2 linked regions of the Homo sapiens genome follow. The protein of the gene in region 1 purifies or fractionates together with the protein of each later gene. This does not show direct contact. Each region holds a gene or a part of one and is shown in the gene's direction. Other genes may lie near its edges.

Region 1 (3,652 bases):
TTAGTTGTGGATAGTTTTAAGTGCTATATCCTGTCATCCTAGACTAATACATCTTAACGTTTTTAGGGAAATTCCTTTTTAGGGAATTCCTTGGAATCAGTACGACCTGCCTCCAGAAAAATGTTATGTCTGTTTCTGGAGGCCCATAGACATTTTTTTTTTTTTTGCCTTTTTCTCCATTGCCCAGGCTGCAGTATAGTGGCACCATCATAGTTCACTGCAGCCTCAAACTCCTGGGCTTTACACAATCCTGGCCTCAGCCTCTCAAGTAGCTGGGACTACAGCACACACCACTATACCCGGCTAATTTTTTTGTACAGAGAGGGTCTCTCTATGTCGCCCAAGCTGGTCTTGAACTCCTGGGCTCAAGCAGTCCTTCAGCCTCGGACTCCCAAAGCACTGGGATCATAAATGTGAGCCACCACGCCCAGCCTGAGCTCACGCTATAAATGCCCCATATTGGTTTTTCTCCCTCAGTTTCCAGACAACCCCTGCTCTGTCCTGAGTCCCATATTTCTGCCATAAGAAGCAGGTTGCCTCACCGTTCCCCGGGGGCTGCAATGGGGGCATCACAGGGGACTTTGTGAAAGGCATTAGAAATGATAAATTCCCTAGTGATCAAGTGCAGCTCAGATGGGACAGCTGGCCTCCCACCCATCCCTCTGACTCTCAGCTTAATCATTGCCTAAGGAGTGGTTTTCACTCGGTTAATTTAATGAGTGCTCTGTATTTCTAGTACACACGAAAAATGCAACTGTATGATCTTCCAGCCAGGTTGGGCCTCTTGGCTTAGCTTTTCCCAGAGCTTGGTGCTTCATCTTTGTTCAGGAAGAAAGGAGGTCTGTCTCTCTTCTCCTTCCCTCCAAATGCAGACGGAAAGTCTCGTCCTCTGAGGACTTGCAGAAAGGAGGAATGTCTCAGGAGGGATCATTTGGGGAGCTGCACTCCCAAGGAGTTGAGAAGCAGCCTGGTTGAGTAACTGGGAAAGGCAAAGCAGCCTGACTTGGAGAGGGGCCCGGATTAATGTGATTCCAGAGGAGGTCCCGGTAGAGAGAAGTTTGGGGACTACTGACTTGGAGAAAAATCAGAAACCCGGGTCTTAAGAGCCCTTCCTCTTCAATCCTTAAGCCAGGCATTGTGCCTGAGGGAAGAAATAGTGGCTCTTATGAGCTCTGCTAGAAAAGTAACCCTTCAGGCCAGGCGCGGTGGCTCACGCCTATAATCCCAGCATTTTGGGAGGCCGAGACAGGCGGATCACCTGAGGTTGGGAGTTTGAGACCAGCCTGGCCAACATGGAAAAACCCCCTCTCTACTAAAAATGCAAAATTAGCCAGTCATGGTGGCAGGTGCCTGTAATCCCAGCTACTTGGGAGGCTGAGGCAGGAGAATTGCTTGAACCTGGGAGGCGGCGGTTGCAGTGAGCTGAAATCGTGCCATTGCACTCCAGCCTGGGCGACAAGAGTGAAACTCCATCTCAAAAAAAAAAAAAAAAGAAAAGAAAAGTAACCCTTCACAGCTTACCCAATGCACATCCAAGTTTCCAGTGACACCTCTGAGCAGGCTAAGCAGCTGGTGGCTCCTGCCAAGCCCTCTCCTCGGAACTGAGCTTCACAGCTTCAGGTGCCAGTCCCTTGCTGACACTCCCAGTCTAAGCTGTGTGTTAGTCTCCAAGTTCAGAAACAACACAATACATGGGTCATAGGAGAAGAACCTCGACTGAGGCTAAAAATACCATAAAGTTAATCAGGCAGTTTTATTAATTATGAATTTATTAATTCAAAACCTATTCAAGGATTTTAGTTTTTTTTGTTTGTTTGTTTGTTTTTGTTCTTTTTTTTTTGAGGTGGAGTTTCACTCTTGTTGCCCAGGCTGGAGTGTAATGGTGCGATCGCAGCTCACCGCAACCTCCGCCTCCTGAGTTCAAGCCATTCTCCTGCCTCAGCCTCCTGAGTAGTTGGGATTACAGGGGTGTGCCACCATGCCCGGCTAATTTTTAGTAGAGACGGGGTTTCTCCATGTTGATCAGGCCGGTCTTGAACTCCTGACCTCAGGTGATCCACCCGCCTCAGCCTCCCAAAGTGCTGGGATTACAGGTGTGTAGTTTAATGTCTTTTAAACCTAAGTTGATTGAATGTAGTATGATAATACAGTGTACTGATTTATTAAAACTCTAAATGAAATGATCAGCAAAATCATACTATTTGTGAACTCATCATTGCTTTTTTTGTTGTTTGTTTTGAGACAGAGTCTCGCTCTGTCACCCAGGCTGGAGTGCAGTGGCGCAATCTTGGCATACTGCAACCTCTGCCTCCCAGGTTCAAGTGATTCTCCCGCCTCAGCCTCCTGAGTAGCTGCGACTACAGGCACATGCCACCACGCCCAGCTAATTTTTGTATTTTTAGTAGAGATGGGATTTCATCATGTTGGCCAGGCTGGTCTCACCTCAGGTGATCCACCCACCTCTGCCTCCCAAAGTGCTGGGATTATAGGCGTGAGCCACCGCACCGGGCTCGTCGTAGCTTTTCAAGTCAATAGAAATCTGGTGTTTGAATCCACATCATGTCTTCCCTTGTAGGTGGGCAGTTGCAGTGTGTAGTGTGCATGCACACCCCAGATTTATGCCCAACTCCACTGGATGTTTTCTGGGTGGGGAGTCATCCATACCTCCCTCAGCGGCCCCGTTCCTAGAGACGGGAGGCCCTTCCCACTAAGACATATTCCTCCTGCTCTCCATGGTGCAATGTAAACATCTTCTTTCTCACAATGTGGGACTGTGGATTTAAATTTATTATTGCTAAGCTCAGATGTTTTAAAGCTTCCTGTCTACAAGCCTGAGAAAATCTCTTCATACTCTCCTTTCCTCCTCTCTAGTCAAATTGTAGCCCTGGCTCCCTAAGACACAACCCTTTAGAGACCCAGACTGCAAATTTCTTTTTTTTTTTTTTTTTTTTTCTGAGATGGAGTCTCATTCTGTTGCCCAGGCTGGAGTGTAGTGGCACAATCTCGGCTCACTGCAACCTCTGCCTCCTGGGTTCAAGCGATTCTCATGCCTCAGCCTCTTGAGTAGCTGGGATTACAGGCATGTACCACCATGCCCGGCTAATTTTTGTGTTTTTAGTAGAGATGGGGTTTTGCCACGTTGACCAGGCTGGTCTCGAACTGCTGACCTCAGGTGATACGCCCACCTCGGCCTTCCAAAGTGCTGGGATTACAGGCGTGAGTCACCGCGCCCAGCTGGGACTGCTCATTTCAAATAGAAATTAGATTATCTTCTAGGATGAGGAGGGACACTTTGGCCTTCTTTGTCATGGGAGGCTGGCACTCTCCTCTAGGACCCTGGGGTGTGTCTTGAGAGCTCGTGCCCAGGGCTATAACACAGAGAGGCCTGTGCTGATGTCATCTTGTTCTGCCCTTTGCTGGCAGGGTGGTTCTGGGGAAGGGCAGAGGCTCCGGGTCCCACTCTGGGGCTGTTTTCACGGGGGATGGAAGGACCATGGCCACTGAACGGGCTGCGGTCCCGTCTATGGACACAATGCCAATGGGCAGCTGCAACAGTGCAGCCAAGGGGAAAGGAGGATGTGCGAGTTGCCCTGGAGAGTCCCTTCCCAGAGCGCCGCCTCTGTCCACCCTGACTATATGACCAGTGGAACCA
Region 2 (3,652 bases), on another chromosome or scaffold:
GCCAGCCAGTGTTCACTCCAAGTAGAACCAAACTCATTGGAAAAGATAATGGCATCTCAGCAAGTAACCTTGAAAGCTTTTTATGCTTATTTTTAAAATAGTAATTATTTATTGTGTACTCATTGTGTCTCAGGAACTATGCTAAGCATTTTGTTTTCATTTTCTCATTTCATTCTCTGGATGGTCCTATGAGGGCGTTTCATTATCCTCACCATTTCACAGATGAGGACATTAAGATTCAGAGAGCAAGTAACTCTCTCAGTCACTCAGGCGTTAAGAGACAGATTCCACATACAAGCCCTGCTCTGCCTGATGTCAAAGCCTGTACTGTTAACCCCTCTCTCTATACTGCTCCATGCTTAGATAACTGGCCTATCATTTGTGTTCCAGTTTGATGAAGGTTTGCATGTTTATTTCTTTTATTTTAAATTCTAAGGTGACTGGGTATGATCAGTGATCAGAGTTGGTGGCTTATAGCATGATCTTCTACTCATCAATGTTAAAAATCAAGATAATCGGTTATTACTAATCTTTGCTATAAGGAAAATGCAATTTTAAAAGTTCTTGTATGGCTTAGTTTTCATTGCTCTGCTCTGAATGAGCTATATAATGGGTCTTTTTGCTTCTTTCTCTGTTCTTCAGTGTCACTTATTCCTTCAAGATGTGCTGACTACCATGTTTTAGGAACAGAGCTGGAGGCTAGGGATACAGGAATAAGATTTGATCTCTGATCTCAGTATGCCCACAGTTTGGTGGGGATACAGAGGAACAAAGAAAGCATATTTCTCTTTCTCTGAGTTTTAAGGTCAGAGTGGGAATGAATTACTTAGTCCTATGAGTAAATCAATAAACTTGAATTTAGAGTGATAATACTTGCTGGTTTTACACTTACTTCTGTGCCTTTGGCAGGAGAGAGGCAAATATTGTTGATTATGTGAATCTGGCACTGTTTGGGAGGATATGCTCAAGAGGCTTGTATGGTAATGACAAAGAATTACATAAATTGGAACTATTTTGGATATAATTTTTTTCAGGAGTCTCACAACTCAAGAAAGAAACGGGAAATTACTGAAAAACAGATAGATGATAACAGAAAATTTTCTTTATTTGCTGAAAGAAAATACCAGACTCTTGTAAGTATTTTTCAAGAGCTGTGAATATTTGAGAGGATGAGGGGAAGGATTTCTTCAGAACAATGTCTTTTGATGACCATTCTTCTTTTTCTCTCTAGAACTGTAGCGTGAACGTGAACTGTGTGAACATCAGATGCCCGCTGCGGGGGCTGGACAGCAAGGCGTCTCTTATTTTGCGCTCGAGGTTATGGAACAGCACATTTCTAGAGGTATGACCTTGGCTTGAGGCTGTCCCATGGAAGTAATTTGCCTTTGCCTAGGACACTTTTCACTTCCCTAATGCATTCACTGTCTCCAAACAGGAATATTCCAAACTGAACTACTTGGACATTCTCATGCGAGCCTTCATTGATGTGACTGCTGCTGCCGAAAATATCAGGCTGCCAAATGCAGGCACTCAGGTGAGAGGTTCCCCAGCTTCATTCAGGTTCAGAACATGTCTCTTTTCCCTGTACCCCACACTCATGTCCTGAAGTCATGTGCTTTGGTGCTCATTTCCCTCATAGCCCCATTACGGAGAAAACTGTCTTAAGGTACTGGCACTGCAAGCTGTATTTTAATAGAATCATTGAAAAAAAGAAGTAAATCTAGGGTCATCCAGTTCAGCAGTGCCCATGGTAGGTTTGAGAACTACTGGCTCAATTCAGAGAATGGGTGCACCTCACAGCCCTCTAGAAACCTGTGTCTTCTACCATCTCTAATGCTGCAGCCATTGGTGTAATGCCCCAGTGATGGCCCATCCCTTGGCCAGCTGTAATTATTAAAAAAGATCTCTTCATAGCTGACTCCTGAACTGAACCTTGTAAGTCCCTGGTTATGCCCCTCAAACAAGTCTAAAATAAGTTCTCTCTCTTGGCCATGTAGCAGCCTCTCAAATAATTGAAGGAAATGGTCATGCCTCCTTGGATGTTTCTTATTCTTCTCAGAGCTTATGCACCCAGCTCTTGAGTTATGCGTCACATTGGGCACAGCTGAACTGGCTCCTGGCCTCTCCCTTCCTGGGCAATTTGATTCCCACGTGGACAGAGCAGCTGAGGTGGGGTCTGCTTGGTCCCACTTACCCTGGGGCCTTTACCTCTCAGCATCTCGGCACCACACTTCTGTCAGACCTGCCTAAAATTTGCTTTTTCAAACCATTGCTGAGCAGCATGTTTGAATTTCTAGCAGCTGCTATTTTTGTGTTAGTGTTCTACTGAAACTTCCAGGTGTTTTCATCAGAATTTGTTGTCAAGCTGTGTTTCCAGTATCCTGTCCTTGAGCTATTTGTAAAAATCTAAATGTATGCCTTTAAGTGTATCCTTACATTTTATGTGATTTGCTTTGGGTCCATTGTTTCAGTTTGCAAAGTAATTCTGAATCTTGCTTCATCATTTGCTTTCTCAACTTTCTATCCCTGAAAGTTTTAAAAACTGAGAAGCATGTTCTCTATGTCTTCATCCAGGTAATGACAAATATGTTGAATAGGACTAGGTGTAGAACCTTGTAGTGAACCAATAGTGAGGGGTTCCCTGTGGGAGTCTAGAACCCACAGGGACTTGTATAAAGATCTCGAGGCAGAATGACTGCATGTCATGGTGGGAATAATGAATGGGAATGTTTTGCAAAAGAGACTGGAGAAAGAAATACTGTGAATTACTGTTCTTAAGTTAATCTGCCAGTCTACTTATGGAAATGTTCTGGCTTCAGTCATTTAGCTAGCTGAAAATTCAGGGAGCCTCCCTAATCATTCTGTTTTCTGAAATATAGCAGTCCTTACGATTTATTATCCAAGCAAGAATACATTTTTGTTTTTATTTAGTTTTTTGAGATGGAGTCTTGCTCTGTTACCCAGGCTGGAGTGCAGTGGCGCAAACACAGCTCACTGCAGCCTTGAATGCCTGGGCTCAAGCAATCCTCCTGTCTCACCTCCTGAGTAGCTGGGACCACAGGCATGCCACCACGCCCAGCTAATTTTTCAGTTTTTTTTGTATAGCCAGAGTCTCACCATGTTGCCCAGGCTGGTCTTTAACTCCTGGACTCAAGCAATCCGCCTGCCTCAGCCTCCCAAAATGCTGGGATTATAGGTGTGAGCCACTGCACCCAGCCCCAGGATACATTTGCCTGAGACAAATGCTGTACTGGGCAAGCTGCTGCGATAAGTGGTATCAACCAGCACTGTCCCGGTCTCTCCAGGACATATCAACAGGCATCATAAGGGACTTTCAAATAAACCACACCTTCCCTAAGGATCCTTTCTCTGCATCTATAAAGGCAGCAGGTATAGCTTTCTATAACTGTAAATCAGCAACTCTGAAAATCACTGAGATTTCAGAGCTAGACAGAGAACACTTTAGAGGGAAGGGACTAACATTAATGAAGCCTTAATAAAATGTCTGCAGCTTACTAGATACTTTATACTCTATCATTCAAACTTCAGAAGAATGCCAAGGGTAAACATTGTACTCATTTTACAAACAAGGAAGCAGACTCAGAGAGGGGATATAATTTGAGACCCTCAATTGAAACCTGTAATTGTCTGA

Evidence for each region.
Region 2: the proteins of CD9 (region 1) and ITGA6 purify together in Homo sapiens (co-immunoprecipitation; 3 studies listed by BioGRID and IntAct, with this or other methods). This does not show direct contact.

The regions. Positions count from the first base shown.
Region 1 is NC_000012.12:6,206,749-6,210,400, forward strand, and holds part of CD9 (CD9 antigen), read left to right. Parts: intron 1-3,652. UniProt on the Homo sapiens protein: Integral membrane protein associated with integrins, which regulates different processes, such as sperm-egg fusion, platelet activation and aggregation, and cell adhesion.
Region 2 is NC_000002.12:172,489,990-172,493,641, forward strand, and holds part of ITGA6 (integrin alpha-6 isoform b preproprotein), read left to right. Parts: intron 1-1,034; coding exon 1,035-1,133; exon of another isoform or gene 1,134-1,231; coding exon 1,232-1,342; exon of another isoform or gene 1,343-1,435; coding exon 1,436-1,534; exon of another isoform or gene 1,535-3,652. UniProt on the Homo sapiens protein: Integrin alpha-6/beta-1 (ITGA6:ITGB1) is a receptor for laminin on platelets. Integrin alpha-6/beta-1 (ITGA6:ITGB1) is present in oocytes and is involved in sperm-egg fusion.